Regions from separate parts of the Homo sapiens genome. Here all the other regions are linked to region 4. The links come from fine-mapping of genetic effects on gene expression. A gene starts in region 4. Each other region holds a variant in brackets. All regions are shown on one strand. Distances are from middle to middle. Region 1 holds the start of LOC107985089 (a long non-coding RNA gene). Region 2 has its middle 17 kb from the start of LINC02080. Region 3 overlaps MXRA7 (matrix remodeling associated 7). Region 4 holds the start of MXRA7 (matrix remodeling associated 7). Region 5 overlaps ITGB4 (integrin subunit beta 4).

Evidence for each region. PIP is the estimated chance that this variant, and not a neighbour inherited with it, causes the effect.
Region 1: its variant is fine-mapped to the expression of MXRA7 in blood mononuclear cells (TOPMed, PIP 0.97).
Region 2: its variant is fine-mapped to the expression of MXRA7 in whole blood (TOPMed, PIP 0.98).
Region 3: its variant is fine-mapped to the expression of MXRA7 in whole blood (TOPMed, PIP above 0.99). The same link has a PIP of 0.9 or more in atrial appendage, caudate, cerebellar hemisphere, cerebellum, cerebral cortex and coronary artery.
Region 5: its variant is fine-mapped to the expression of MXRA7 in monocytes (Fairfax 2014, PIP 0.95).

What each region holds. Positions count from the first base shown.
Region 1 is chr17:76,819,451-76,824,220 of GRCh38, forward strand. LOC107985089 (a long non-coding RNA gene) reads left to right here and starts at 3,490. Exons shown (of 4, transcript XR_001753021.2): 1 at 3,490-3,531. The variant G/A (reference allele first, on the strand shown) is at 2,776.
Region 2 is chr17:76,814,121-76,818,890 of GRCh38, forward strand. No RefSeq gene overlaps it. Among named protein-coding and RNA genes, the nearest start is that of LINC02080, 17 kb to the left of the region's middle. The variant AAAGG/A (reference allele first, on the strand shown) is at 1,897.
Region 3 is chr17:76,678,415-76,683,184 of GRCh38, forward strand. It overlaps MXRA7 (matrix remodeling associated 7), which reads right to left. Exons shown (of 4, transcript NM_198530.4): 4 at 1,152-2,465. The coding sequence ends at 2,453. Among named protein-coding and RNA genes, the nearest start is that of MXRA7, 30 kb to the right of the region's middle. RefSeq lists an enhancer at 4,015-4,561. The variant C/T (reference allele first, on the strand shown) is at 2,660.
Region 4 is chr17:76,709,115-76,713,884 of GRCh38, forward strand. It overlaps MXRA7 (matrix remodeling associated 7), which reads right to left and starts at 1,851. Exons shown (of 4, transcript NM_198530.4): 1 at 1,491-1,851. The coding sequence starts at 1,832. It also overlaps a transcript of JMJD6 not described here. RefSeq lists a silencer at 1,873-2,082.
Region 5 is chr17:75,749,229-75,753,998 of GRCh38, forward strand. ITGB4 (integrin subunit beta 4) reads left to right here. Exons shown (of 40, transcript NM_000213.5): 28 at 883-1,040; 29 at 1,452-1,632; 30 at 1,746-1,883; 31 at 2,946-3,128; 32 at 3,218-3,349; 33 at 4,537-4,746. It also overlaps a transcript of GALK1 not described here. Among named protein-coding and RNA genes, the nearest start is that of GALK1, 14 kb to the right of the region's middle. RefSeq lists a silencer at 4,342-4,770 and an enhancer at 4,539-4,770. The variant A/G (reference allele first, on the strand shown) is at 2,553.

The DNA.
Region 1 (4,770 bases), 110 kb after region 4:
AAAATACCTGTCTGGTGTTTTAAGCCACCCAGCTTGTGATAGTTTGTTATGGTGACCCGAGGAAAGTAATACGCCTTCTCTCCAGGGCATTAACATTTGGGCAAGGGTGTGTAATGATTCTCTCATTTTTAACTTCCAGTTAAATAATCCTGTTTTTGAATAATTTATGTTCTAAGACTTCCATTTTTAGATGCTTTCCTTCTGTGCCCCCTTCCCTTGGGCCACTGCAGACTTCCCTTGGCACTTCTTCTTCTCCCAGAGGTCACCTCCCAGCAGGCTCTGCTCCGGGGATGCCTGGTGGGTGGAGGGCTGCCTCTTCCCCCACTTCACTGGGGTGGGCTGCTTACATCTTGAGGCTCAATCACATGCATCAGAAGCTGCAAAGTCCCAGAAGGCAGATATTGTTTTCTCCTACCTTGTCCTCAGTTTGCTGTTGATTTCCTAAAAATAGACTTTACCTTTTAATAACTTCCTAGCTTGCCATAATTGCCAGGTCCCATGCTGTTGGATAGATGGGACAGGCAAGAGCTCGGCAGCCACTGTGAGTCCCTCCTGTAGGGGAGGGCAAATGGCAAGGGTTGTCCCAGAGGGCCCCAGAGTGCTTGGCCCAGGTGAGCCCTGCTCTGAAAGGAGAGACTTGGATCCCCTTTGCCCTAACCTGGGGCCAAGCTCTGAAAGGACAGAGGTTCCCTTCTGCTCTGAGCTGCCTCCTCTGGGCTTGCAGGAGAGGGGATAGCAAAGGCTCTACCCAACCTCAGCAGCTGGGGGAGTCCAGAGGCCTCTGGAGTGCTCTGCAGGTGGGCAGCCTGGGGCTCTCCACAGTGTCTCAAGGGACAGCTTCCCCTGGGGCACCACAGTGGGAAAGATGCCAGGCAGAGAAGTTCCCTTTTTCCTCCGGGCTGTGTTGAAAGGTGGTTACTGGAACCACTTACTCTGTTAACAAAAATCAACTGTCTGTCCTTAGGTTATGAAGGGTGGGGGATGGAGGGCGCAGTGTGGGGAGGGAAAGTTGGAGTCGGGGGTGCATAAAGGGAATTGACTTTGCAGTCCCAACTCTTCTTTTCTAGAATCCAAGATTCAGTCTCCCCTTGGATGACAGCGTCTCTCTCTATGTCTAGTTTTGTAGGATGGGGATCCAATTTTATTAAGGTAGAGAGGGCAGGTCCTTGCCATGCAGGAGGCAATCAGGAGGAAATCACTCCAGAGCAGTTGGCATGCTCTCAGGTCCATCTGGCACCTGCCCCAGGGCTGCCTTGCTAGCAGAAACCATTCTGCCCTTAACCTCCGGTACCCTGCCAAGGAGGTCGCCATTCCTGGGGCATCTGCTGCTATTGGGAGCAGGCTTCCTGGCCAGGGGCCAGCTGTGAGGGCCCCTTTTCTAGGAGCAGAGTAGGAAGCCATGCGGTGTGGGCACAGGCTGCCAACATGATGATCCTCTCCCTATGCTGCCGAGAGGGGCCTTGGGGACAGAGAAGCTTGGGTTCACATTACATCCCCCCACTTCTTAGATGTCACCCTGAGCAAAGGTGTAACTTTTCCAGGCCTCGATTTCACTGCAGCACTCAAGAAATGGCTACTTCATGGGGTTAAGGTGAGCATCATTTAGGGGGTGCTCAAATGGTCCTTTGATTAGGTATAAATAAGGAGTGAGACCACTTTGCACAGAGGAGACCCTCAATAAATTCAGTGAATCAGAAACATCACAATTATCCCCTTCTCCTGAGAGAAGGAGCATGTGGACCAATGCCAGCCTAGATCAAAATGCTGGTCGTCCTTTTTTTTTTTTCTTTTTTTTTTCCTTGAGACAGACTCTTGCTTTGTTGCCCAGGCTGGAGTGCAGTGGCATGATCCCCACTCATTGCAACCTCCGCCTCTTGGGTTCAAGCAATTCTCTGGCCTCAGCCTCCAGAGGAGCTAGGACTACAGGTGCATGCCACCACACCCAGCTAATTTTTGTATTTTTAGTAGAGATGGGATTTCACCATATTGACCAGGCTGATCTTGAACTCCTGACGTCAAGTGATCCACCTGCCTGGGCCTCCCAAACCGCTTGGATTACAGGCGTGAGCCACCGTGCCTGGCCATCTTTTATTTATTTATTTATTTATTTTGAGATGGAGTCTCACTCTGTCACCCAGGCTAAAGTGCAGTGGCGTGATCTCAGCTCACTGCAACCTTCGCCTCCCAAGTTCAAGCAGTTCTCTGCCTCAGCCTCCCAAGTAGCTGGGATTACAGGCTCCCGCCACCATGCCCAGCTAATTTTTGTATTTTTAGTAGAGACGGGGTTTCACTATCTTAGCCAGGCTGGTCTTGAACTCCTGAGCTCTTGAACTCAGCTCAAGTGATCCACCCGCCTCGGCCTCCCAAAGTGCTGGGATTACAAGCGTGAGCCACCGCACCTGGCCCATGTTTTCTTTTTTTTTTTCTTTTTCTTTTTCTTTTTTTTTTTGAGATGGAGTCTTGCTCTGTTTCCCAGGCTGGAGTGCAATGGCGCAATCTTGGCTTACTGCAACCTCCACCTCCCGGGTTCAAGCGATTCTCCTGCCTCAGCCTCCTGAGTAGCTGGAATTACAGGCGCCTGCCACCTCGTCCAGCTAATTTTTGTATTTTTTAGTAGAGATGGGGTTTCGCCATGTTGGCCAGGCTGGTCTCGAACTCCTGACCTCAGGTGATCCACCTGCCTCAGCCTCCCATAGTGTTGGGATTACAGGCATGAGCCACCATGCCCGGCCCACCTTTTCCTTTTAAACAATGGATTTTGCCACTTGATCTGGA[G/A]CTGGGGTCCTGGAGGCCTGGGTCAGGATGGGAAAGGGGGTGGGGTCAGCCCTGGCTGTGGCAGAGAGGCTCCGAAGCTCTGGACCCGGCAGAGTGGAGTGCAGGAGGCTCTGTTCCTCTTCTGGCACGGGGCCAGTGGATGCTGGCCTCCACTCAGCATCACTTCATGGTGACATCAAGCCCGTGATCTTCAAGGCACTTTGTCAGTGTACAGCCAGCAGCATTATGTTGGAGCTGTCCCTCATCTTTGCAATCATCTAGTTCAAGCTCCTCTCTTCTGCAGCTAAAAACGTGGGTGCTCATGCTGAGATCACCCACAAGCACTGCCCAGCTGTCACTTGGGCCTCTGAAGGAGGCCAGTGAGGAGGAGGAGTGTGTGGGGCCACTGGGCCTAGCACCCTCTGGGTATGAGCCTGGGCTTTAGAATGAGGTGGAAGGTGGAGGAGGTGGGTATTGGGAAGCGGCAGGAGGGCTTTTGGGAAACTTGGAATTCCCACTCTCAGTGACGTGTCTTAGGAGCCCCCTGGAACATTTCTATTTCAACTGAGTTGATCTGAGGAACTCTGACCACCATTTTCACCCAGTGGCATTCAAGGTAAGGAAAAGCGAATATTTTTTCTTGTTGTTGTTTGAGACAGGGTCTCGTCTGTCACCCAGGCTGGAGTCCAGTGGCACGATCACAGCTCACTGCAGCCTCAACCAACCAGGCTCAAGCAATCCTCCTACCTCAGCCTCCCGAGTAGCTGGGACTAACAGGTAGGCACCATCATGCTCGGCTACTTTTTGTATTTTCTTTTTTATAGAGGTGGGGTTTTGCCATGTTGCCCAGGCTGGTCGCAAACTCCTGGACTCAAGTGATCTTTCTGCCTCAGCCTCTCAAAGTGTTGGGATTACAGGCGTGAGCCACCGCACCCGGCCATAATTATTTTAAATAGAGTTGAAGTCTCACTGTGTTGCCCAGGCTGGTCTCAAACTCCTGAGCTCAAGTGATCCTCTGGCTTTGGCTTCCCAAAGTACTAGGATTACGGGCATGAGCCAGGGTGCTTTGCCTAATTTTTAATTTTTTTGTGGAGACAGGGTCTTGCTATGTTACTCAGGCAGATCTTGAACTTCTAGCCTCAAGCAATCCTCCTGCCTCAGCCTCCCAAAGCGCTGGGTTTACAGGCGTAAGTCACTGCTTTTGGCCTCCTCTAACCTTGATTCTGTATTCCCCTCTCCTGGGTGCCTGTGCACACATACACACACACATTCACCCGCTTATACATTTGCACATGCACCTGTACACTTGCACACTCTCCCTCATAAACTTTTTTTTTTTTTTTTTGAGACAGAGTCTCGCTCTTGTCACCCAAGCTGGAGTGCAATGGCATGATCTTGGCTCACTGCAACCTCTGCCTCCTGGGTTCAAGCGATTCTCTTGCCTCAGCCTCCCGTGTAGCTGGGATTACAGGCATGTGCCACCACGCCCGGCTAATTTTTGTATTTTTAGTAGAGACAGGGTTTCACCATGTTGACCAAGCTGGTCTCAAACTCCTGACCTCAAGTGATCCACGCACCTCGGCCTCCCAAAGTGCTGGGATTACAGGCATGAGCCACCGCGCCGGGCCCCTCATAAAGTCTTGCACACACTCAAACGCTCACCCACCACACCTACACACACCACACACACTCCCTGTCCTGCACACCTCTGCACACACGCACCTGCCCAGAGCACCTTGCTGGTTCCCCCGCTCCTGCTCTTGGATGGTTGAGCTTTGCCGAGACACGTCTGGAAGTGGAGTTGATCTGCTCACCCTCCGTTTTGCTCCCCCGACCCCAGCCCTTCCTGGGCTGTGTCTCCTCTTGACTGTCCTTCAGCTGCCCGCAGCCTTGCCTTCAGCATCCTTCCACCCACCTTGAGTGTTCCACCGTAAACCTACCCCCTGCTCTGGGATTCGCCTCATGCTTTCCTGAGCTCAGTGCCATCCTGCATTTCCCTCTTCAGCTCCTCTCCTC
Region 2 (4,770 bases), 110 kb after region 4:
GGGTGGTGGTGCACGCCTGTAATCCCAGCTACTTCAGAGGCTGAGACAGGAGCATCACTTAAACCCGGGAGGCGGAAGTTGCAGTGAGCTGAGATCACGCCATTGCACTCCAGCCTGAGCGACAGAGCAAGACTCCATCTCGGAAAAAAAAGAGTTTTGCCATGTTGCCCGGGTTGGTAACCCCTGAGCTCAAGCAATTTGCCCACATGGTCCTCCCGAAGTCCTGAAATGACAGGTGTGAGCCGCTGTGCTGGGCAAAATTTTATTTTTTATTTTTTTTATTTTTTGTGAGACAAAGTCTTGCTTTGTTGCCCAAGCTGGAGTGCAGTGGTGTGATCTTGGCTCACTGCAACCTCTGCCTCCCAGGCTCAAGCGATCTTCCCACATCAGCCTCCCAAGAAGCTGGGACTACAGGTGTGCACCATCATGCCAGTTAATTTTTGTATTTTTTGTGGAGACAAGGTTTCATCATGTTGCCCAGGCTGGTCTTGAACTCCCGGCCTTAAGGAATCCACCTGCCTCAGTCTCCTGAAGTGCTGGGATTACAAGCGTGAGCCACTACACCCCAGCAAAATTTTACTTTTAATGAAGACTGCGGACCACAAGAAATGCTAGCATTGTCAGTATTGGCTCACTCAGTAGGTACCCAGTGTCATTCCCAGACAGCTTCACCTAGCACCTATAACTTTGGCCAGTTGTCTACTAAATTATTTGTTATAAGGAGGAGCAGGCAAGAAAGATCAGTGTAAAAATCACCCCAACTGTATGAAAAATGTTTAAAGCATGCCTCCTTATTGGGATAAATTCTGCAAATCCCCAGCTCCTACTGTAGGGTAGAGGAAAGGAATACACCAGAGAGCAAAAGCCACAGAGCTGTGCCCTCCCAGAACCTCCAATCCAACACAGCATCACACAGAGCTTCAGCAACACTGGCTGTGCACAGTCTGCACACCCGGAACAAGCCAGGATTTGCCCGGATAAAACAACACAACTTTCTTATGAGACATTCGAGCTGGGCTTTCAGCTCCTAGCAAAGTCCTATGTCAAACAAGGCCAGGCCAAGCTCCAGGATGCCCGACCCCTGGGCAGGTTTTCTCTCCCAAGGTTTCCTCTTTCCTCCAGTTTGTTGCTTGCCCTGTCAGGGTCTGAGGAAGGATGACAACAGAGAAACCTAGATTCTGGTCCCATGTGGGCATCTGCAGGCAAGTCATAGACACTCTGGACCAAATATCCTCATCTGAAAATAAAGGTTTGGCCATGATGGCTTCCAGGGTGTCTGTTAGTCAAGAAATATTCTGGGCCTGGTGTGGTGGCTCACATCTGTAATCCCAGAACTTTGGGAGGCAAAAGCGGGAGGATTGCTTGAGGCCAGGAGTTCAAGACCAGCCTGAGCAACATAGCAAGACCCCCATCTCTACAAAAAATAAAATAAAAATTAGCTGGGCATGGTGGCATGCACCTGTAGTCCCAGCTACCCAGGAGGTTGAGATGGGAGGATTGCTTGAGCCTAGGAGTTCAAGGTTACAGTGAGTTATGATTGTGCCACTGCACTCCAGCCTGGGCAGCAGAACAAGATCCATCCCAGCACTTTGGAAGGCCGAGGTGGGTGGATCGTGAGGTCAGGAGTTCGAGACCAGCCTGGCCAACATGGTGAAACCCTGTCTCTACTAAAAAAAATACAAAAATTAGTTGGGCATGGTGGTGCGCGCCTGTAATCCCAGCTACTCGGGAGGCTGAGGCAGGAGAATGGCTTGAACCTGGGAGGCGGAGGTTGCAGTGAGCCGAGATTGTGCCAGTGCACTCCAGCCTGGGCGACAGAGCAAAACTCCATCTCAAAAAAAAAGAAGGGAGGAAGGGAAGGGAGGGAGGGAAGGAGAGAAGGAAGGAAAAGAAAGA[AAAGG/A]AAGACAGGAAGGAAGGAAGGGAGGGAGAGAGGGAGAGAAGGAAGAAGGAAGGAAGACAGAAAAAGAAAGGAAGGAAGGAAAATGCTCTCATTCGGCTGGGTGCAGTGGCTCACGCCTGTACTCCCAGCACTTTGGGAGGCCAAGGTGGGCGGATCACCTGAGGTTGGGAGTTCGAGACCAGCCTGACCAACATGGAGAAACCCAGTCTGTACAAAAAATACAAAATCAGCTGGGCATGGTGGCACATGCCTGTAATCCCAGCTACTAGGGAGGCTGAGGCAGGAGAATCACTTGAACCTGGGAGGCAGAGGTTGCAGTGAGCTGAGATCGCGCCATTGCACTCCAGCCCGGGCAACAGAGCAAAACGCTGTCTGAAAAAAAAAAAAGAAAAGAAAATGCTCTGATTCTCACCCAGGTGGAGTCCCTGCAGGACCCATGCTCACCACTGTTTCTATGTCCCTAGTCAACCAAACACCACCAACCCTTAGCTAGTAGCTTCAGATGAATTCCAAATGCCTAGGCAAAAGTTTTAGCCATGGCCCTCTGGCCTTCTAATCCTTCATGGCTTACCAAATTAACAAATTCCAGGCGGAAATGGTCTCTTGAAGTGTGTAGGAATCACTGTGCTGTTTTTGAAGTCTTGCATGAAAGAAACCTCAGGGCTCGGAGACCAGGCTCACATCCTTTCGTGCCCTGCAGAGGGCGACCCGCTCTTGCAATCGGATTTTCTGTATTGTGAGGGAGTTACTGTGAAGTGTGCCTCCTTTTTGTGTGGCTAACCCCCAGGGCTGGGACGGAAGAGGAATTGAACTGGCATAGTAAATTAAAATGCAATTTGAACTTCAATGCAGCCTTTCAAATGAGGCTCTGCTGCGCTCTCCTGACACCCCTCCTCAATTCTTCTCTGGGGTGGCATGGAGGTATCTGATGTTCCTATTTAAATCCCTGAGTTCATACACTGTCCTTATCTGTCATTTCCTCTTTGAAAGGCACTGAGAACTCAATTCAGGGAAAATTGAAAACCTTTCCAGATATTACTGTTTTGAAAGTGGTTTTGCCAAAAAATATAACAGCAAATAAACTCTAGTAAGAATGAGATTCATTTAGCTCTTGTTGCCTTTGACCTCAGAAGAAAACATCTAACAGGAAGCCTAGAAAGTCACAGTTAAATATATAAATTCATTTTGAACTAAGAGTCCTTTTTTTTTTCTTCAGCACTAGAATTCCTGCAGTAGAACAGGTATATATATATGTATATACATTTTTTTACATCAAAACCACTTAGACCAGGTGCGGTGGCTCATGCCTATAATCCCAGCAATTTGGGAGGCCAAGGCAGGTGGATCACCAGAGGTCAGGAGTTTGAGACCAGCCTGGCCAACATGGTGAAACCCCGTCTCTACTAAAAATACAAAAATTAGCCGGGTGTGGTGGCGCATGCCTGTAATCCCAGCTACTCGAGAGGCTGAGGCAGGAGAATCGCTTGAACCTGGGAGGTGGAGGTTGCAGTGAGCTGAAAATACGCCACTGCACTCCAGCCTGGATGACAGAGCAAGACTCCGTCTCAACAACAACAACACTTAATGCTGCCTCAGGTTGCTAAGAGGAGCCTGGAGAGTGGAAAGTTGTGTGCACAGGAGAGACTTTAGTCCACTGTCATTTGTGCCTTTACCATTGTCGTCTTTTCAGTGGCCCTTATTATTGGGGAGTTTTGCTGCTTGTAGTCATTCAATGACATTTTCCTCTAGCCCTCAGTGACTGCTGCAATCCCCTTTTCTTTTCTCTTTCTTTTTTTTTTTTTTTGAGATAGGGTCTTGCTTATTGTCCAGGCTGGAGTGCACTGGTGCAATCACAGCTCGCTGTAGCCTCGATCTCTGTATTAGTCCATTCTCACACTGCTATAAAGAAATACCTGCAACTGTGTAATTTATAAAGAAAACAGGTTTAATTGGCTCACGGTTCTGCAGGCTGTACAGAAGGCATGGCTGGGAAGGCCTCAGGAAACTTACAATCATGGTGGAAGTTGAAGTTCCATATCTGGAGCAGGAGGAAGAGAGGGGGGAGGGGCTACATACTTTTAAACAACCAGATCTCATGAAAACTCACTGGCACAACAACAGCCAGGAGGAAGTCCACCCCCATGACCCAGTCACCTCACACCAGGCCCCTCCCTCAACACTGGGGATTATAGTTCTACAGGAGATTTGGGTGGGGACAGAAATCCAAACCATATCAACCTCCCAGGCTCAAGCAATTATCCCACCTCAGTATCCCAAGTTGCTGAGACTGCAGGTGTGCCAGGTGTGCACCACCATGCACAGCTAATTATATATATATATATATATATATATATATATATATATATATATATTTTTTTTTTTTTTTTTTTTTTTTTTTTTTTAAGAAATGGGTTCTCACTATGTTGCCCAGGCTGATCTCGAACTCCTGAGCTCAAGTCATCCTTCTGCCTCGGCTTCTCAAATTGCAAGAATCACATGCAAGAGCCATTGAGTCCAGCCCCTTTGCTTTTCTACGTGAACTTAGTATGGGAGTTATCAGGTTGATTCTGGAGGTCATTTGTCCCTCACCTGCATTCAAGGAATAGATTCTCCCATCCTCAGTGTTTGCCATCAGAAAGACGTAGCTGCCATCCAACTTAAGCTGCCCTTGCTGGAATTTAGATGAATTTTCCTGTTATCTTTATAGGGTGAGTCGGTTACCCTTCTGTAGTGGGTGAAGTCGTGTCCCCCAGAAAAATATGTCCAAGTCCTAACCATCGGTACTTGTGAACTTAACCTTATTTGGAAATAGGGTCTTTGCAGATGTCATTAAGTTGAGGATCCCCAGAGGAGATCATTCTAGATTCAGA
Region 3 (4,770 bases), 31 kb before region 4:
TGACCAGCACAGGACAACTTCTGCAGCACAAACACCTCAGGTGGGGCGAGGCGGCTGCCGAACCCAGGGAGCCATATGTTTGTTGTTTGCTCCACTCTGGTGCCCTGTGCTCCTCAGCCCAGCCGGGCACTGCATCCTGGCTGCATCTCACTCTTCTGGTTTCTGCAGTTCCTGCCCCCCACACACCACGGGCTCAGTGCCTTCAGAGAACGTAAACCACATCACAGTGTCGGACCTCTCAGCCCTGCTCTGCAGCTGGGTCGGCTGTAAGCACGTTACAGGCTCTGCAACCGCAGGACCTCAGCATAGCCCTGGGCCACTGGCATCCCCCACACTGCCTGGAGGGGTGGTCTCCACGTTCGCTCCCATACTTTTGCTACCATATTCCTTTGCTTCACCCTTCCCTCCTCTCCTCAGCCCCGCATCTTCCATCCTGCAAAATTTTCTGTCTAGAGCAGCATCTAGTAGTTGAAATACTGAAGTCCCACTTCCCAGCCTCCCTTGTCCCCTGGGAAAGCTGTGTCTACAGTCGGTTCCCCTGTCTGGTGAAGCAGCAGCCTATGATGTGTGCTTTGTGCCCTCCTGTAAGAAGAAAGAGGGTCAGGTGCAGTGGCTCATGCCTGTAATCCTAGAACTTTAGGAGGCCAAGATGGGAAGATCACTTGAGCCCAGGAGTTCAAGACCAGCCTGAGCAACATAGTCAGACTCTGTCTCTATAAAACAATTAGCCAGGTGTGGTGGTGAGCACCTGTAGTCCCAGCTACCTGGGAGGCTGAGACGGGAGGATCACTTAAGCCCACGAGGTCCAGGCCACAGTGAGCTGTGATTGCACCACTGCACTCCAGCTTGGGCAACAGAGGGAGGCCCTGTCTCAAAAAAAAAAAAAAAAAGAAGAAGAAGAGGAATTCCCGTGAACAGAAAGGATGTGCTGAGCTCTGTGGATGGAAGCACAATCCATATGTCCCTGAGTGAACACAGATCATGTCATGTGGTTTTGACAGCCATGGTGACTGCATATTTTTTAACAGGGTGGATGTATGGCTTTGTACTCTGCTGCAGAGTAAGAGGCATCAAAATGAAAGAAAGGTCAAACTTCAATGGGTTCAAAAGGGATTTTGTTTTAAAACAAAGCAAACTGAAAAAACACACAGTAATTGAGATCATCTACTCAAAGTTTATTGGACTGAACAAAGGCTGAATACAGAGATCCAAGCCATGAGGAGTACATGAGGTGTGGTGCCTATAAGCCAGGGTCGGAAACTTTCCAGACAAACCTAGATAGCTCTACTAGGAGGGAGTCAACGACCTATTGTGTCAATTAGATCCCAGCCTGGACAAGGGCATGACTATTGCTGTTTGGGGACACGTGGCTCTGTGTTGAAGGCAATGACTGTGTGGCTGTTGCCATGTGGCCTGTTCTCCCCTAAGCCCTGAACCAAAGGTTCCAGGCCCAGATGAGAAGGCCCCTGGGAATGCATGCCATAGGGGTTGATGCTGGACATTCCCCAGCCTTCCATTAAATGAAAACATTTTCTATAAACTTACTGCTTTAAAAAAATGTTTTAACCAACAAACCTAAGAACTGCAAATGAGTTTGGTATAGTATAAATATTGTCAAATATAAAATTCCAAGAAACCCATTTGAGACTGATCTGATGATCTGAAGTTCTAACTAATCTATCAAACTTTCTAAGAAAAGGCATAGGTCAAGAAATCTTTTTAAAGCAAACATTATTGCTTCTGCTATAGCAGAGTGGAGATTTGGCTGAGCTGGTAAGAACCTCAGTGAAAAGGTGTCTTAGCAATGAAAGGGCTGAATCCGAGATTCCTCTAGATGAAAAATAAGGGGAATGGTCAAGTAAATTCCTGGTACTGGTTCTTTGCTGCCCTGTAATCAATATGGCATCTCACCCCCGACAACCAAGCCAGCCACAGAGAGAAGTGGGGTTCCCAGGGAAAGGGGTCGGCTGACCACCCTGACGGAGCTGGTGAGCACAGGTGAGCTCTACCTCATTTGTCTCTCATTCCTCAAAGTCTTCTGTGGTTTGGCTTCAGTGAGGGCAAAAGAGGGGAGACTGGAGTGAAAGTGAACTCTGCTTTTAAAATGTTCTTTTTATCTAAGGTGTGCAGGGTGTGTGGATAGCAAGTTTGAGTGGTAAGAAAAATCCCAGTCCAGGGTCTGAGCTCTACCTCTTAAAACTCTTCAGCTTAACAAAGTGACCCACAGGAACAGACATGAACATCTCTACACAGGGCAGGGCCAAAGGTGTTCCCAGGATCCTGCTAGCCAAGGGACAAGTCCTGATTGAGGGTCTAGAGCTCAGCAGATTTATGGAGGCAGCATGCACCCTGGGAGCCTGCCCAGACTCCTCTCTGGGGTTTCCGTTTTATCTCTCAAGCTTTTAAGATGCCAAAAGGAAAAGCCTTTAGGAGGACGCTAAGGATAACTTCGTTATTCTTCAGTTCTGTAAAGAGAAATGGGGAGAAAAAGATAATTTATTTTACTCATTCCATCCTGCACCATGGGCAAGGAAAGGGGGAAATGGGGACGAGGAAGGAGAATGTTTGGAATTGCAGAAGCTGCGCTAGACTCTGGTTTCTCAAACCACTGCTGATTTGCTTCTCATCGCTTGCAGCAAGACAGTCTGTGCCGCCAAGC[C/T]GGCCAGAGCTTGCAGAGCTCCCCTTGATCCCGCACAGAACCTGGCAGCCCACAGACCCTGTTCAGCCTCTGCAGGGTACTTAAGGAAGGAACTTGGGCATTTGAGTTGCCAAGGGCCTTTCTGATCTTGGGTTGTGTGGTTGTGCTGACAATATTCCTATCACCCTAGATAATTTCCCATTCCCGCTGGCTGAGTTTTGTCCCCTCGGGGGATACTGGCACCCTAGGATGCACGCTTCCAGATGGAGCCAACTGCATGCCCGTCTTTTATGAACCAAGACACACTGCCAGCCCTGGGACCACTGAGAACCCAGCAGGTCTGATCTTGTCCCTCTGACGCCCTCTCCTGGTGGTCACAGTCAGCACGCATTTCCAGCCTGAGCTGGAAATTCACACTGGCAGGTCTATTGTCTGTAGTTTCTTGCATACATCAGATGGAAGAACCAGAACTACCCCACAGCTGGGGTTCCTTGGCCTCCTCCTCCCCTTCCCTGTTTTACCACACTAGCACCTTCCTCTAGAGTCATGTCCATTTCCAGAGGAGTCAAGACAGCCCTGCAGACCTCAAATGGAGGGGTGGGTCCTGATCTATCAGAGCCAGCCCAGTCTATAGCCTGGGTTCATTTTCCCTCTGAGACCACAAGGTGGGAAGAAGTGATGGAGAGGAGCTGACAGCCGCGCCTGTTCTTTCTCCTGCCAAGCTGTGAAGCCAGCCAAGCCCTGCCAGCTTCCCTAGCTCTGGGGGAGGAGGAGGAGGCCTCTTGCTCAGGGGAGCTGTCACCAGCCTGCAAGCCCACTGTCCTAGCCACACTGTGAAACTGGAGGTGGCACTTCCCACAGCAGCTTCAGCGGAACCCAGGGACGCCACCAGAGGCATGAAGTGTGTGAAACTCCGGCCCGAGGGGAGAGCTGAGGAGGCGGGCAGACAGTGGCAAGCAGGATCTTAAGCAGCAGCTGCCTCTGGATTTACAGACCTGACCGCTTTCTGGCCCCAGGCGGAAGGAATTTGATCTGTGAGTAGTTCAAGGATGAGACTGACCACTTCAGCATGTCGGGGAACTAATTGGGGGCCTTCTGCTTCCAGTCCCACTTCCTAATTGTCATGAGAGCCTGTGAACTGAAGCTCCTGGGGAGTGCTGGAACTGGCAACCACTAAAGCTTCAGGTTCTAGATGCAGATCTGTTGGCTGAGCTAGTAAATTTAAAGTTAGGGGACGTGCAGCTTGTAGCTGCAACTCGACTGGACCCTGAGAGCTGGGAAAGGCATCAGAGGCATGGAGGCCGGGAGGGTGGAACCTGACAGGCGGAGAGAGAGCACCCTGCTAGCTGGCCTGTGGTTTTAGTGGTTTGATAACAACAGGCATGTTATTTTTCATACTGATGATTCTAGGGCGGTTCCCTGGACTTGGCTGGGACCAGAACTGTCTCACAGCTGCCAGCGCTCCCCACCCCCATGAGAACCATCGTGCTGAAGATGAAGAGCCAAAGCCAAACTGACCAGCCTCTGCAACCCCAAGCATCACCGTGTGAGGACAGCGTGATGTGGAGCCGCGGAGACCCCACGCAGTGCTGCGAGGGGCAACCACATGCAGGGGGGCAGAGGTGTGGGGGAGCAAGCAGATGCCACCGGCATGCCTAGGAGCCACAGGGAGCATGCGGGCTGGGCAGTGATGGGAATGAACGTGAACTCCAGTCCTGCCCCAAGAAGTCCTCCGGCCCCTCCTTCTCAATTCAGGGCACAAAGTGGTAACTGCAGCATGCAGAGGAGTCGAGGAGTCTTCCCTCGTCCCAGGAGCAGCACCTCGGGCACAGTCTCGGTCCCACAGAACAGCCAAGTGTGGGTTGGTGGTCTAGAGACCTCCAAAGATCCAGTGGGGGAAGGATGGGCAGCAGAGGGTCTACTCTCTGAAAATAAGGGGAAGGGATTTTCCCTCCCCACTGCCAAGGTCCCAGCTCTGGACGTGGGTGGCAGTGGCAGTTTCACCCCCAGCCGGAGGCCTGGTCTTTCTTGTTCTAAGAGGCCCTCCAGATCCATCTGCCTGAGCAGCCTCTGTCCCCAGGGACCTTCAAGGGCTGGCAGTTGTGTCCAGCCCCCTCTAGCCTCTGTCCAGG
Region 4 (4,770 bases):
AGACAGGGCGCCGCTAAAGGACATTTTGCACTTCAGTCCAGAGCCTGGTGTGGGTGATAAAGGGCCAGCCCTGTAAGGCCAGGACTGACTGAGTGTGCATGACGGCTCCAGAACTGTCTAAAGGCCTCTCCTGCTCCCGCGAGACCTCGATGGAGGCAGGAATCCCAAATATGGGAGCAAACACAACAGATCAGCACATGTCCAAACCGCGCCCCCTCCACCATCACCGCGTGAGGTCTGGAAGCCCACCCCAAGCAAGAACGGCAGGGCCTGCCCCTGCTCCACCCCATTAAATGTGGCTGGTTAGAATCCTCTCTAATGACACAATTAGTCACCCACTTGTCAAGCAAAGCGCCTGCTCAGAGGGGGTCTGGCGCACTTACTCAGCAAAGAGAAATGCCTCTGAGCACAGCCTGGCTGCCTCCTCCTCCCCCGAAGGGCTTCTCTCCAGGGTAAACCATTGTGTCCAGCACAGGACAGAGTGGGCACGCAGACACGCAGGCACGCTGACAATGCGCATCCCGGCTCTCCTCCCTTCCAAGAAAAGGAGCTCAGGGGTAAGAACAAGGGATTACAATCCGACTCGGAGACCCTGGCGGTGGCCTGGACCGGCCAAGCGTGGTGAACTCCAGGGAACATGGGCACACAGTGTAGGGGCTGGGATGAGTGGATGAGGGAAATCCGACTCCTCTCAGATATCCACAGGCAGGACAAGGTGGCCAAGGCCGAGCTGATGGACAGCATGGCGGGAGGCCTGGGGCAGAGGCAGGGAGGGCCGCTTTGGGGTGCTCACTGGTGCTCCAGGAGGGCTTTATCCTGCATCTTCACTCCATCCAGGCCCAGCTTACCTACAACCCGGGGGAGTGGGGGTAGGAGGGTGTTAGATGTGTAGCTTGAAAACGACAATAAAAAGGACTGCTGGGATCGGGTGCCTTTTCTTTCAGTCCCAGCCCACGGGCTTCACAAAACGCCACAGCACTGACTCTGAAATCTGGACTTCAAATTGGCTGAAAAAGAAAAGCCAGCTTTCCTCCCTCGCCCCCCGAAAGTCCTACTTTTTAAACATCAAGATAACTCTCATGGCAGGCCTGGAAATAAGCCACAGGCACGTGGATTTGGGAACCGGTGGGCGGGAGGGGTCAGAAGTGGGTGAGGAGCAAAATTCCAAGCCCTGGTCCCGAGGCCTGGGAGCCAGCAGCTGCGGAGCACGCCCTGGGCTGGGAGAGGCCGAGGGGAGGGGAGAGCAAAACACCTCCAAACAAACTCCTTCGGGCTCGCCCCTCGCCACACTTTCTGGGGGAGGGCGGCGAGTTTGCGGGGCTGCGGCTTAGCATGGCGGGACCTGCATTTCCTGCGGGCCGCGGGTTCTGCGCTTCCTGGGGGCAGCCTGGGCTGGAGGCCGCGGCCCCGCTCCCTGGCTCGGCGGGGAACGGCAGCGGCAGCCGGAGCCCCGGGGGTGGGGAGGGGGCCGCGAGGGCCCCGGTGCGTACCTGCCTCGCCTCCACCGCCTGCTCCTCCGCCTCCGCTGGCGCCGCCGCGGGATCCCCTGGCCCTTCGGGCTCCCCCGGTCCCGCAGGCTCCCCGAGCTCCCCCAGCCCCGCGGGCTCTCCAGGCTCCTCCGGCCCCGCGGGCGAGGCCGCCGGCTCGGGGGCGCAGGGGCGGGACGGCGCCGGGGCCCCGGTGGCCTCGGCCGGGGGCGCGGGTTCCGGGGGCGCGCGGGCAGGCTCCGGGCTCGCGGCCGCCCCACGCCGCACCAGTAGCCAGGCGAGCAGAAGGGCCAGCGCGGTGGCCAGCGCAGGCAGCGCGGCCAGTAGCTCGGCCGGCGCCTCCATCGCGCCGCGGCCGCCGAGTGCGGGCCAGCTGGGACCCCGAGGGAGCCCGCCGCGCCCCGTCGCCGCGCCCGGTCGCCGCGCCCCGCCTCGGGGCGGAGCCCCCATCGCCGCGCCCCGCCCCCGCCCCCTCCGGCCCCGGGAGGGTGACGCACAGGCTGCGGGCGGGGGTGTTGAGGGGGCAGAGCCCTGACCACCTGGGAGGCACAGGAGGGCCAACCCCTGCCCGGCCTGGGCAGCCTTGACGCTTTGGGGCACAATTTAGCTCAGGTTCAATTTGAAATACTGTATGAGGTGCCCTTAGGTTGTCATCTTTGGCCTTAGTACGGCGGTTCGTCTTAGAGCATTTTGGAAATGTGGGAATGCAGAGAGACAAGCAAACCCGGGAAGCTTCATGGAAACGGCAGCCTGGATTGGCTTGTAAAGCAATCATAATGCCGGATTACGTTCAGCCACTGCCGTTTTTATAGGCATGTCAGGAGTTGCTTTTAATCCTCAGGGTTGCCTTAATGCACTTTCACAGAGGACATCTCCAGATCCCGGCCAGTGAATGCTCCCTTCGGAGCTGAGGCCAGCAGCCTTCAACACAGGCCTCCCTGTTAACAGTAACATGGCTCCCCCGCCCCTAGACCTGAAATTCAGCTGCAGGTCCTTGGTCAACGCTATTCCTCTTACCAGACTTTCTTCTTTGCACAATTCCAGAATGCATGCAGGGTGGGAGGGTACAATGAAGGAAATGAAGGCTATTGTTTTTGTTTCTCCAGATCCTCCCAGGCCTCTGTTGCTGAACAGTGGATTTTGAGATAAACACGTTGTAACCAAAAACATACTTTCCTACCACTCCCCACCCACTCTTTAGTTATTTTAAATAAACACAGGACGGGCATGTCAGGTATCACGCCAAACATAAGGCCTAATGTTAAAAAAAACACGGTTCCAGTTTTTGCTGAGGATGCCTTTAATACTTTTTTGGGAATATTACAGTGCCTGAGCTGATCTGTGATATAAACCAGATATTAGATGGAGTGCTTCTTTTTAAATGAAGATACACAAACGAGACCCCTCAGCAACAGGGAGAGCTGAATTCTGCTGCACTGCACGATATTAAGCGGGCCATGCACTTCCTTTTAGTGGTGGTTGATGAAAAGAGCCTATAAACTATAAAATGTGAAATAGGCTTTATCTACGGGCGACTAGCTTTTAACCACTGTGGAAGTTTCAGCCAGTGTATGGGCCTATTTTTTTTCTTTTGAGATGGAGTCTTATTCTGTTGCCCAGGCTGGAGTGCAGTGGCGCAATCGCGGCTCACTGCAACCTCCACCTCCCGGGTTCAAGCGAAACTCCCACCTCAGCCTCCTGAGTAGCTGGGATTACAGGCGCCCACCACCATGCCCGGCTAATTTTTTTCTGTTTTTAGTAGACAGGGTTTCACCGTGTTGGCCAGACTGGTCTTGAACTCCTGACCTCAGGCAATCTGCCTGCCTCAGCCTCCCAAAGTGTTGGGATTACAGGCGTGAGCCTCCGCGCCCAGCCAATTTTTTTTTTTTTTTTTTAAAGAGACAGGGTCTTTCTTTCTTTTTTTTTTTTTAAAGAGACAGGGTCTCACTATGTTGCCCAGGCTGGAGTGCAGTGGCTATTCACAGGCATGATCATAGCTTTCTGCAGCCTCGACATCCTGGGCTCAAGTGATCCTCCTGCCTTAGCCTCTTGGGCAGCTGGGATTACAGGTGTGCATCAATGCTCCTGGCCCAGGGCCTTAATTTTGTGCTCCATCCCATTGTTTTAAAGTGTAAATACATTTTTTTAAAGTCCTGTTCTGCTGACAAAGTACATTGTTGACTTTCAAATGAGTAAGAAAGAAAATAAGGACAAAACAATGCCAAAAACACAACTCCAAATCATGTTGCTTTATTTAAAATGATGAACAAGTTTCACCCAAGTGAAAGTTTAAAATACCAACCCAATAGCAGATCCACAGGCTTTCATGGCAGACCCCATGGCTAGACGGACGCAGAACTAGGAGACTGCTCAGTGTTCTGACAACTCCAGGAGGCACGAGTGTGCAGAAGACAGTCCCAGTTCTTCTGTAGCATCCAGTCACTTTGGAGACAGCTGGCCAGGGCTAGCTCTCCTCCCAGGAGGTTCACTGGGGCTTAGATGACATTTCTTTTTTTTTAAAGACAGAGTCTCGGTCTGTCACCCAGGCTGGAGTGGCTTGATCTCAGCTCACTGCAACCTCTGCCTCCTGGGTTCAAGTGATTCTCCTGCCTGAGTTGACCAAGTAGCTGGGACTACAGGCATGTGCCACCACACCTGGCTAATTTTTGTATTTTTAGTAGAGACGGGGTTTCACCGTGTTGGCCAGGCTGGTCTTGAACTCCTGACCTCAAGTGATCCACCTGCCATGGCCTCCCAAAGTGCTGGGATTACAGGGGTGAGCTACGGCGCCTGGCCGAAATTTCTGAACAATGAGACAAAGTTGAGAGCCACCGCCTGGGGGTGCAAGCTCACCTAGTTTTGCTGCATAGGATGTCACATCTTGACACAAGCTAGTGGGAGGGGAGTGTGGAAGAAGCCGCCAGACTCCACTTCAAATCTACCAGCAATACCAGTACACACATCAAAAACAACTTACTCGTGGAAATACTACAGACAATCTAAAGAACCTACAGCTGGGGCATCCTTATACGCCTTCCTCCTACACAGCATTTTTTACATTTACTGCAAAAATTTTGTTCCATCCTATACTCGTCTAAAGTCCTAAATCCAAGGCTCAGTCTCTAGTAAGCTTATAAAGCATTTGCACCAGCAACCTTCCCACAGATCCTTAGTTTTGCTACTTTATGAAGAAGCTGTTACTACCTTAAGTATACATTGGTGTTAATTATGCTCTTTCATGTAGATCCGTTACACCTGCATTTAAGAAGGTCTGCACTTTCTT
Region 5 (4,770 bases), 960 kb before region 4:
CTTTTTTTTGCAAAATGGGCTGGGTATACTGGCTCACACCTGTAATCCCAGCATTTTGGGAGGCCAAGGTGGGAGGATCACTTGAGCCCAGGAGTTCTAGACCAGCCTGGGCAACATAGTGAGACCTCGTCTCTACAAAAAATAAACAAATTAGCTTGGCATAGTGGTGTGCACCTGCAGTCCCAGCTATTCCGGAGACTGAGGTGGGAGGATCACTTGAGCCCAGGGGGTCTGGGCCGCAGCAAGCTGTGATCGCACCACTGCACAGCACCTGGGCCATGGAATGAGATCCTGTCCCCCAAGAAAAAATAATCTTGTTGTTTATCTGAAATTCAAATGTAACTAGGCATCCTGCATTTTATCTGGCAACCCTACAGCTAGAGAGGCTGTTGTCACCACACAATAGGAATTCTCCCATCAGACCCTGGCCCTTTGGCTTCAGCCTCAATTCCAACTAACATGCAGATGCTTGTGGAAGGAAGGAGTGGGCCAGTTAGTTCCTATCAGCCCTCAGCCTCCCAACTGGGAGAAAGCCTGCCAGGAAGATGGGAGAGGAGGGAGATACTCAGGGTACAGTGTGGAGATGGGGTGGGGAGCAAATGTTCTCATGTGGAATGTTCCCTGAGCTGCCAAGGGAGAAAGGGGCAGACCAACTCCCTCCCGCTTCTGTTCCTCCAGAGACCCTCCTGGGTCCTCCGCCAAGCTTGGCAGGATGCTCTATGTGGCAGCAATGGGGCACCACCAGGTCTCCAGAGACGCGGGTGGGCAGGTCTGAGTTGAATGCGCTGGGTAGAGCGCCCTGGGTGTTGAAGTGGGTCTCTGGCGCCCCCTGGTGGTGAAGGGGGATCTGAGTGGTTGCCCGGCCCCAACCTGACCCGTTAGATGAACTGGACCGGAGCTTCACGAGTCAGATGTTGTCATCACAGCCACCCCCTCACGGCGACCTGGGCGCCCCGCAGAACCCCAATGCTAAGGCCGCTGGGTCCAGGAAGATCCATTTCAACTGGCTGCCCCCTTCTGGCAAGCCAATGGGGTACAGGGTAAGGCGGGGGGCTGAGGGTCACGACAGGTGGATGGGCGGTCTGGCACCAGCACTCACAGAAGAGGTGGGCCGTCCAAGGCCAGGGCCCCCTGAGAGAGAGCAGACAGTGGAACCTAGCACAGGTGGTCAGAGGGAAACCCGGTCTGTGCTGGGAAAGAGGGAAGACCCATTCCTGAGTTTATCAGACATTTGCCCTCCTTCCTAGAATGGGGCCCCCTCCCACCCCCGCATGGGAGATACCCCCACCTGCTCTGCCCTAGTCCTGACGTGTGCACATGGCAGATCTCTCAGCCCCTCCCTCGGGCCTCATCTGTGCAAAGAGGACAGTAAGGGCAGAGGTCAGAGGAGGGACAGGCAGCTTGGGTGCCTGCTGCTCCCTGCTGACCAGGACCCCTGTCCCTGGGGGTAGGTAAAGTACTGGATTCAGGGTGACTCCGAATCCGAAGCCCACCTGCTCGACAGCAAGGTGCCCTCAGTGGAGCTCACCAACCTGTACCCGTATTGCGACTATGAGATGAAGGTGTGCGCCTACGGGGCTCAGGGCGAGGGACCCTACAGCTCCCTGGTGTCCTGCCGCACCCACCAGGAAGGTGAGGCCTCGCCATGTCTGTCCATTTGTCCCCTGGCTGCCCTGATGCCAGCATGCCCAGACCTCCCTCCCTCTGCCACTGACAGCACTCTTCCTGTATTCCCCGCTCCCTAGTGCCCAGCGAGCCAGGGCGTCTGGCCTTCAATGTCGTCTCCTCCACGGTGACCCAGCTGAGCTGGGCTGAGCCGGCTGAGACCAACGGTGAGATCACAGCCTACGAGGTCTGCTATGGCCTGGTCAACGATGACAACCGTAAGAACCAGATCCTTCTTTCCTGCCCACAGGGAGAACAGCCATGGAAGGGGAGGGGACAAAGCTGGAGGGAGCTCTTGGTCACTCCCTGGACCTGCTGTGCAGGGCACTCGAGGCCTTCATCCTGGTCAGCGGATAAGCCTGAGGCATCTTTAGGGTTTTGGCCAGATTTGGGCTGGGTTGCATTCTAAGACCAAACCCAGAAGGTTGCAGGGTGGGTGGTTACCTATGTGGAGTGAGGTCACAGGCCCAGGGGTACCCCTCCCCATGCAGGTAACCAGGGAGCTCACACGTGCATGGTTTTCTTAGGGTGAGAGGAAAGTTACCGGATTTAGCAAACAGAAATACAGGAGGTTCTGAATTTCAGATAGCACTTTAAAAGATTATTTTGTACATTGAGAGGCCGAGGCAGGTGGACTGCTTGAGGTCAGGAGTTCAAGACCAGCCTGGCTAACATGGTGAAACCGTTTCTACTAAAAATTAGACAGGCATGGTGGCTCATGCCTGTAGTCCCAGCTAGTCAGGAGGCTGAGGCAGGAGAATCACTTGAACCCAGAAGGCGCAGGTTGCAGTGAACCGAGATCGTGTTACCGCACTCCAGACAGGGTGACAGAGCCAGACTCCGTCTAAAAATAAATAAATAAAAAGGATTATTTTATACATTATTTT[A/G]TCTAGCAGCCCGAGATCAGAGGTGCCTAGCAGAACAGTTATTTCTCCAGTCCTGGAAGGGAGGCAGGGTGGGCAACCCCTATGCGTGCCCTTGCCTTGTGTGGAGGCACCGTGGATATATGGGTAGAGGTGACATCGAGGCCAACTTGAGTCCAGCCCTGGCTCTGCCACTTACTCAGCAGAGTCCCTTGGAGGACTGGTGACATATGTCCACGCCAGTCATGCTGACGCTCAGGGCTCCGCAGGCGGCAATTCAGCAGTGGCTGGCTTTGCCTTGCTTCCCCAGCCCCTGGGTGCCATCCAGGGGATGCACGGCCGTCCTGCTGTGTCAGGGGTGGTGTTGGGACCAGGCTGGGACCTGGGTGACCCTCTGAAGCACTCTCTCTGCCCCAGGACCTATTGGGCCCATGAAGAAAGTGCTGGTTGACAACCCTAAGAACCGGATGCTGCTTATTGAGAACCTTCGGGAGTCCCAGCCCTACCGCTACACGGTGAAGGCGCGCAACGGGGCCGGCTGGGGGCCTGAGCGGGAGGCCATCATCAACCTGGCCACCCAGCCCAAGAGGCCCATGTCCAGTGAGTGGTGGGCAGGGAGGTGAGGGGCAGACCGGGCAGGGGGGCAGGGGGCAGCAGCCAGGGCCCTGGCTCACTCCCCTGCCCTGCAGTCCCCATCATCCCTGACATCCCTATCGTGGACGCCCAGAGCGGGGAGGACTACGACAGCTTCCTTATGTACAGCGATGACGTTCTACGCTCTCCATCGGGCAGCCAGAGGCCCAGCGTCTCCGATGACACTGGTGAGTGGAGACCTGGGACCCACAAGAGGACAGTGGGGGTCTTGGGTACAGAGTGAGTCCACTGGGTCCAGAGAGGGCAAAGGGGCCAGCAACTAGAGGACATGGAGGTTAAGGCAGCCTTGGACAAATGCAATGGAGTGCACATCTGTGCATGGGGCACAGGAACCAGTGCCTGGGGGACAGACACACACAGCCTTGTGCAAGCGCACATGAGTTCATGCCCACGGGACCACGAAGAAACACAGCTTCACAAGTTGAAGGTTCACCAGCTGTGCCATGCACACAGGACACTCAGGCCACCCCCCAGGGGCAGGCCTGGCCCAGGAGCCCTGGGCAGCCACCAGGCGGCCACCTGGCAGGGGTAGGGGAGCCAAGGAGACAAGAACACCCCCAACAGCTCTGTCCTTCCTCCTTGATTCCCAGCACAAAGTGCTGCGGAGCCCTTAGCTGGGCCTCCTGAGTGCTCAGTGTCAGCTGTGGCTCCACCTGTGGGACATCAGATGAATCACTCATCCTTTCCATGCCTCACTTTTCTGCTCTGTATAATGGGATACCAATCACACAGTACCATGAGTGGAAAAACCTCTGGGGCACGTATATCTTTTGTATTTTCTTCTGTCCCTGCCGATGCCTCAAGCTGCCCCCGGTGAACACATACTGGCCCCCACGGGGCTCAGCTTGGGCTTAAGGAGCCATTTTGAGGGGTTCAGGTGGAGCGCAGCTGGTGTGACTCTGGAACCCCAGCTCAGCTGCTTCTAACACTACCTGCGAAGCGCTCGGTGGCTTGCGGAACGGTCCCTGGGAGGCGGGCAGGGGCAAGATTCCTCTCTCCATTGTACAAACGGGAAACTGAGTCTCGGAGAGGTTAAGTAAAGCAAGGGAGACCTCACAGCTGGTGACAGAGCCCAGACTTCCCCCAGGTTTCTGGCGGGTCCGGGGGTCTCTCCTCCCCAGCTGTGCCGAGGCTGCACTCGCTCATCTGGAAAGGCTTCAGCCGCGCAAGGGTTTCACCTGCCGCGGCCTTCCCGCTCCGGCCGTGCGCATCTACCCCCGCCCCCAACACACACCCCGGGATCCCGGGAGCTGGAGACGGGCTCCCCTCGCAGAGCCTACGGCCTTCCCCCGCCTGGCCCTGCTCGGCCCGGCGCCCCCCGGCGGTGCCAACGCGGCCCTTCGTTGTTCCCAAGGCTGCGGCTGGAAGTTCGAGCCCCTGCTGGGGGAGGAGCTGGACCTGCGGCGCGTCACGTGGCGGCTGCCCCCGGAGCTCATCCCGCGCCTGTCGGCCAGCAGCGGGCGCTCCTCCGACGCCGAGGCGCCCCACGGGCCCCCGGACGACGGCGGCGCGGGCGGGAAGGGCGGCAGCCTGCCCCGCAGTGCGACACCCGGGCCCCCCGGAGGTGACAGGCTCACCCGCCGCCCCC